Homo sapiens: one gene and its partner. The protein of the gene in region 2 interacts with the protein of the main gene of each other region in a pairwise test. Each region holds a gene or a part of one and is shown on either strand. Other genes may lie near its edges.

Region 1 (3,652 bases), on a different chromosome or scaffold from region 2:
CCAACTCTTTTCAGGTTCAAGTACAAACTCATTTCCACTGTTTACATGCACCTTTGTGATCTTGCCTCTGCTTAACTCAAGTTTCATCAAGTACCAACTTACACAGTTTCAAGTACCACCTCTCCCTCACACCATCTCTTGTAACATTTTACTTCAGCCTTTATTTGATCATTTCAATTGAATTACTACTGTTTCCCCAAATGAACCATGTCCTTAATGGCCCCTGTACCTTTACACATATCATTCCTTCTGCCTGGATGTCTCTTGATGGCTCCTCCCAAACTCTTTGCAATTTAGACATACCTTCCACTGAAAAGCCTTCCCTAGTCACTCCAAGACCCTATCCCATGACCATGTTCCAAGAATACCCATATTTAGTCTTTTCAGAGCCCTTAGCACACTGTAATGTAACTGTTTACTTTTCTATATCTCTTCCCCTAAACTATGAGCTCCTTAGGGACAGACACTACTACTTTTTATTTGTAGCACCTAGAACAATGCCTAGCACATAACAGGCATTCAATGAAATATTGCCACAGGATAAATGAATGAATGGATGGATGGATGAATGGATGAATATGGACAATGTAGAACTTTGAGGAGTCTAATCAAAACACCAAACTGGCCAGGCACGGTGGCTCATGCCTGTAATCCCAACACTTACAGGCCGAGGCGGGTGGATCACCTGAGGTCAGGCGTTCGAGACCAGCCTGGCCAACATGACAAAACCCTGTCTCTACTAAAAATATGAAAATAAAAAATATGAAAATTAGCTAGGCATGGTGGCACATGCCTGGTTCCAGGTACTTGGGAGGCTAAGGCAGGAGAATTGCTTGAACCTGGGAGGCAGTGGCTGCAGTGAGCCAAGATTGCGCCATCGCACTCCAGCCTGGGCGATGGGTGAGAATCTGTCTTTAAAAAAAAAAACAAAACTCCAAACTGTATTTAAAATCTAAAATGTAGCTAGCTGCTCCATTAGAGTAGCTACATAAGTAAGACTTATAATCTCTCAAATGCATATATTGGGAAAGAGGAAACAAAAAGAATATCACAAACATATTTTCTATTTTATAGTCTCACACTAGTTAAGATAAAGCCGAATGTTTACATCGAAAGGATTGATGGAAGGTGCTCAGCTATGAGCTAAGAAGGGATCACCAGAAGATCATTTGTGTGCATGCTTTTCTGACTCCTGGCAGGAGAGTGCTAGGCTACTTTTTGGGCTCTCACCAAGTCCTGCAGTTCTCTCAGTTGTTTTCCTGTCAGTCCCCCAATGCCCAGATCCTCCTCGTCCTCTTCTGGCTGGGCACTGACATTACCAGAAGATGGCCCCTGTTTGATAAAGAATTCTTCATGCTGGTCCAAGAGGAGTCCATGGAGCATCCAGGCTGAGAGCTGTTTATACATGACCCCATGACAAACGGCCAGGATTCTGGGCAGAGTAGAAAGTAAGAGGCTCAGAAGTCATGCTTTAAACTGTTACAGGATAAACAGAGGCCTGAGAATTTGATGAGTCATAACAGAAATAACCAATTAAGTTAAAAATAATTGTGCTATTTTAATTTAAATGTGGGTGAACTAACTCACTGAATTTCCATATTTGCAGCCTACACAATGAAATCTAAAATGTTCAGTATATGTGCTGATATTATTTTAGGGAAGACATTTTCTTCCCTTCTTTTATGTAATTTTCAAAACTGATGGGTCCTAAATATGTACAACTGTTTTATAGCAATAAAAAATAAAAATAATAAAAAATTTTAAAAATCGACTTAATGGAGTCTCTTTTTGGCTAACACAGTATTAAATTTGTTTTATTTTTGTTGGAATCACTTAGGGAGAGAATATTCAATACGTGAGTGCCAGGTATACATGAAAAACCATTATCTAGCAAAATTCAGAAACTAAAACAAAATGCAGAATGGTTGTTGGGGAATAGGATATTCAGATGGTCTCAAAGGATCACCCACCAGATAGCATATTAATTAAAAAGGGGAAAATGTACCTCTATAATGGAGCAGGACGTGATGAAAACACCTAAGCCAAGTGATCCAACTTCATAACATCCGTGATGGGATAAAGTTACTTTCTGTACCTTCTAATATGATGTAATGGGAAATAATATCACCTACATAGTATTCTTGCCAAAAAATGTTTAATCTGAATCTAATCATAGGGAAACAATAAATCCAGATTGTGAAACATTATACAGGACAGCTGGTCAGGACTCTTAAAATGTCAGCGTCATCCAAAACACCAAGAACAACAAAAGGCAAGGGGGACGGTTCTAAATTAAAGGAGACTAAAAAGACATGAGAACAAAATGTAGTATGTGAACACTGATCGGATCCTGGATTGCAAAAAAAGAACAGCTATGAAGGAATTCTGAGGGACAACTAGAAAAATTTGGATATAGTATTACTGAATTAATGTTAACTTTCTTGGGTGTAATATGGAATTGATGTTCTATAAGAGAATCCCTTTTTCTTTTATTTTTCTTTTTTTCTTTTTTCTTTTTTTTTTGAGACAGGGTCTCACTCTGTTGCCCAGGCTGGAGTGCTGTAGCACGATCATGGCTCACTGCAGTTTCGACCTCCTGGACTCAAGCCACCCTCCCACCTCAGCCTCCTAAGTAGCTGGGCCCACAGGCGCACACAGCATGCCTACTTTTTTTGTATTTGTAGAGACGGGGTCTCACTATGTTGCCTGGGCTGGTCTCCTAGGCTCAAGCTATCCACCCACCTTGGCCTCTCAAAGTGCTAGGAATACAGGTGTGTGCCACCATGCCCAGCCAAGAATGCCTTTTTTCTAAAGTGATACAAGCTGAAGTATTTAAGTGTTAGGGTATCTGTGACTACTTTCAAATGACTCTGCAAAAAAATTTGTGCATTTCACATATACGTATAGAAGGAGAAAAAGAGAAATCAAACGTGGCAAATGTTAACAAATGGTGAAACTAAAGGATACACTAGCGTTTGGTTGGTTTTTTTTGTTTTTTGTTTTGAGACAGGGTCTCATTCTGTCATCCAGGCTGGATTACAGTGGCGAGATCTCAGCTCACTGCAGCATCAACCTCCTGGGCTAAAGCAATCCTTCTGCCTCAGCTTCCCGTAGCTGGGACTACAGGCAGGCACCACACCTGGCTAATTTTTTTATTTTTGGTACAGACAGGGTCTCGCTATGTTGCCCAGGCTGGTCTCGAACTCCTGGGCTCAAGCGATCCCTCTGCCTCAGCCTTCCAAAGTGCTGGGATTACAAGCGTGAGCCACCGAGCCCAGCCTACAAGTGTTTTATTATACGTTTCTTTCAACTTTTTTGTAGGTTTAAAATTTTTCAAAATAAAAGGTTGGGAGAAAAAGAAATTACAAGAACTTGACTGTGTTATTTAACTGAATGGAATCTCTCTTTAAAAAGATCAAATGTGAAGCTATTTACATTTATGCATTTCTGAGTATGTGGTCTGTAAAGTTTGGTCCCTGCAAACACAGAACAAACATGTATATATAGTATCATCTACATTAGATTTTATATTCTATACACAAAAGTATAATAGAGAATTAAGTCCCTAAGGAATGTTCTGGAGGATTTACTCATGCAGTGGTTAGAGTGGAGATTAAGAGTTGTGAGTGGCCGGGTGCGGTGGCTCACACCT
Region 2 (3,350 bases):
GTGCCCCCGTCTCCACCGGCTGGGACTGGAAGGCCCTAGGACAGTGGCACACCCACCCTCCAGCCCCTACAAATGTCCCCAGCCCTTACCCACCTGGTGATGTCTGGAAGTGTGACCAGCTTGCCGGCTGTGATGGCCGCATTGAAGCAGTGTGCCCCATGGGTCTCCATGGCAATGATGGGTACATGCTGCCAGCCCACCTCCAGCAGGCCAGCCACCACCCCGGCCAGGAGACCCCCACCCCCAACTGCCAGCACCAGGGCACCTGGTGGGGTCCTCAGCACTGCTTTCAGCTCCTGCACCAGGCTGGCGTGGCCTTTCCTGGGGAGGGGGGGTGAGAGGGAGAAGCAGAGTGAGGGAGGACCCCAGCCCAGATGGCTCCTGTGGTGGGGGAATTTACCAGGGGTGGGTTCTCTGCCCCCTCATATACATAAACCCCTCCCCACCATCCCCATCCCATCCACGGTGAGGGGAGAGGAAGTCCTGCAACAGTTACTTCACTCAGCTTCATTCATTCTCTTTATTTTTATTTTTTTGGATAGAGTCTCACTCTGTCACCCAGGCTGGAGTGCAGTGGCACGATCTCAGTTCACTACAACCTCCACTTCCTGGATTCAAGCGATTCTCCTGCCTCAGCCTCCCGAGTAGCTGGGACTAAAGGTGCGCACCACCACGCCCAGCTAATTTTTGTATTTTTAGTAGAGATAGGGTTTTGCCATGTTGGCCAGGTTGGCCTCGAACTCCTGACCTCAGGTGATCCACCCGCCTCGGCCTCCCAAAGTGCTGGGATTACAGGCGTGAGCCACCGCGCCTGGCCTCATTCATTTTCTTTATTATGTATTTGTTTGCTCATCCCTTCCCATCTCCATCAACCTCCCAGGCCCTTTCTTGGACATTATCCCAATTTAGCCCCCTCCCCAACTTTGCAAAGAGGCAATGGCAATGTGTGGTTAAGAGGGGACAAGTGTATCACTTGGGACCAGCCTGACTGCAGCCCTTTGTATCTGCCATGTACTTAGCTGTGTGATCCGGGGCAAGTTGTTTGACCTCGATGTGCCTCAGTTTCCTCACCTATGAAATGGGGATAATAGCACCCACCTCTAGGGCTTTGGGGAGGGTAAATAGAACAGTGCAGGAGGAGCCATTAGCCTGGTGCCTGGTCCCAAAGCACATATTCAGTAAAGGAGACTTGGTACTATCACTTCCATTTTACACACATAGAAACTGAGGCACAGGATCTGGGGTGCTTTGCACAAAGTCCCACAATTCACAAGGGGGCAGAAGTGGGATCTGAACCCATGTCTGCCTGGCTTTGAAGCCTCTTCTCCCCTCTGGGCCTCAGTTTCTCCTTCTGCCCAATGGGAGGACCCTGACTCAGTGAAGGTCTCCCAGCTCTGGACTCCTGGGGAGAGGGGCGTCAGCCTTACCATATTAGGGGGTGGTCAAACGGGGGGACATTCTCCCAGCCGTCCCTCTTGGCCAACTCTTGCGCCCTCAGATTGGCCTCGTCCCAGACCTACAGAGAAACCAAGGGCCCTCAGAACAGCCGGGAGTGGGACTGCTATGGAGGCCGGAGCAGAGGCCCAGGATCTCCTTGGTGGCCCCAGGATCTAGTAGTCTGGGGACAGCCCTGCAGATGAGACCATACCTGGTGTGGGCCCAGAGGCCTCCTGAGAATTGGACAAGCACTTCCAGGCGGACAAACAGATGCCATGTGCTTTCCACAATACCCAAGCGACCTGTCCTACTGCCACACTATGAAAACCAGGCCAGGCCAGCCAGGGAGGCTGGGAGCGGGTCAGCTCCAAGGTCAGCCACATGGTGCCCACTTCTAGCCAACCAGTAGGGGAGAAGCCCCCTAAAGTCAAACACCAGATAGCAACTTGGTCACCATAGAGTGTGTCCGTGGAAACCAGCAATGGCCCAGCTGATGGCCTGCTAGTTGAGTTCAAGCAGCCAGAGAGATGGCACATAGGGCCGGCCCTGACCATGATGGACCCAAGGCAACCACAGCAGGGGTGAGTTTTCTCTTCTCACTGGCTTGGCCTCTGTGGCAGAGATCCAGGTCCCCTGCTCATTCACACACCATTGACAGGCTTTCTTCCCTTCCCTGACTCATTTCTACACTCCCTACCAATGCTTCCTGCAATCACCTCCCAAATAAACCACATGCACCCCAGTCCTCATTTCAGGGACCGCTTTTGGGAGAATCCAAACTAAGACAGCATTTCAGAGGGACCCCATGCCAGCCGATCTCAGCAGGAACCAGATACAGAAACTAAATGGTAGACAATGGCCTCCTCTCCCAAGGGAGGGATGGAGGGTCACAAGGGGGGCAGAACTAGCCCCTGCTCATCCTCAGGGACTCTGCAGTGCCCACTCTGTGCCCAGTTCTAGGTATGGGGACTCTTCAGCAGGAGAGAAGCCAAGAAATGGTCTCTGACTGCAAGGAATTTCCCATCTGGCTGAAGAGAAGAGTCTCATTCCCCTGAGTTACTGAAACAAAAAATACACTGTTGGTGTGAATGCAAATGAGTTCAGCTCCAATAGGAAGCAGTTTGGAGATTTCTCAAAGAACTAAAAATAGAATTACCATTTGACCCAGCAATCCCATTACTGAGTATCTACCCAAAGGAAAATAAACCATTTTACCAAAAAGATCTGCATTTGTGTGTTCATCACAGCAGTACTCACAATAGCAAAGACATGGAATCAACCCAGGTGCCCATCAATGGTGGATTGGATACAGAAAATGTGGTGCATATACATCATGGAACACTACGCAGCCACAAAAAAAGATCATGTCCTTTGCAGCAACATGGATGCAGCTGGAGGCAATTATTCTAAGATAATTAACTTAGGAACAGAAAACCAAATACTGCATATTCTCACTTACAACTGGGAGTTAAACACTGGGTATAAACATGGGCACAAAGATGGGAACGAGAGACACTGGGGACTCCAAAAGTGGGGAGAGAGAGAGAGTGGCAGAGGTTGAAAAATACCTGTCAGCTGGGCGCAGTGGCTCACGCCTGTAATCCCAGCACTTTGAGAGGCCGAGGCAGGCAGATCCTGAGGTCAGGAGATCCAGACCATCCTGGCCAACATGGTGAAACCCCGTCTCTACTAAAATACAAAAAAATAGCCGGGTGTGGTGGCGTGCACCTGTAATCCCAGCTACTCAGGAGGCTGAGGCAGCGGAATCGCTTGAACCCGGACAGTGGAGGTTGCAGTGAGCCAAGATGGCGCCACTGCGCTCCAGCTTGGCAACAGAGCAAGACTGTCTCAAAAAAAAGAAAGAAAGAGAGAGACAGAGACAGAGAGAGAGAGAGACAGAGAGACAGAAAGAG

The links.
Region 1: the proteins of SDSL (region 2) and TUBGCP4 interact in a two-hybrid assay, tested with the Homo sapiens proteins (2 studies listed by BioGRID and IntAct).

The regions. Positions count from the first base shown.
Region 1 is NC_000015.10:43,381,083-43,384,734, reverse strand, and holds part of TUBGCP4 (gamma-tubulin complex component 4), read right to left. Parts: intron 1,433-3,652; coding exon 1,231-1,432; intron 1-1,230. UniProt on the Homo sapiens protein: Component of the gamma-tubulin ring complex (gTuRC) which mediates microtubule nucleation.
Region 2 is NC_000012.12:113,432,300-113,435,649, reverse strand, and holds part of SDSL (serine dehydratase-like), read right to left. Parts: intron 1,517-3,350; coding exon 1,428-1,516; intron 322-1,427; coding exon 94-321; intron 1-93. UniProt on the Homo sapiens protein: Catalyzes the pyridoxal-phosphate-dependent dehydrative deamination of L-threonine and L-serine to ammonia and alpha-ketobutyrate and pyruvate, respectively. Also exhibits racemase activity towards L-glutamate and D-glutamate.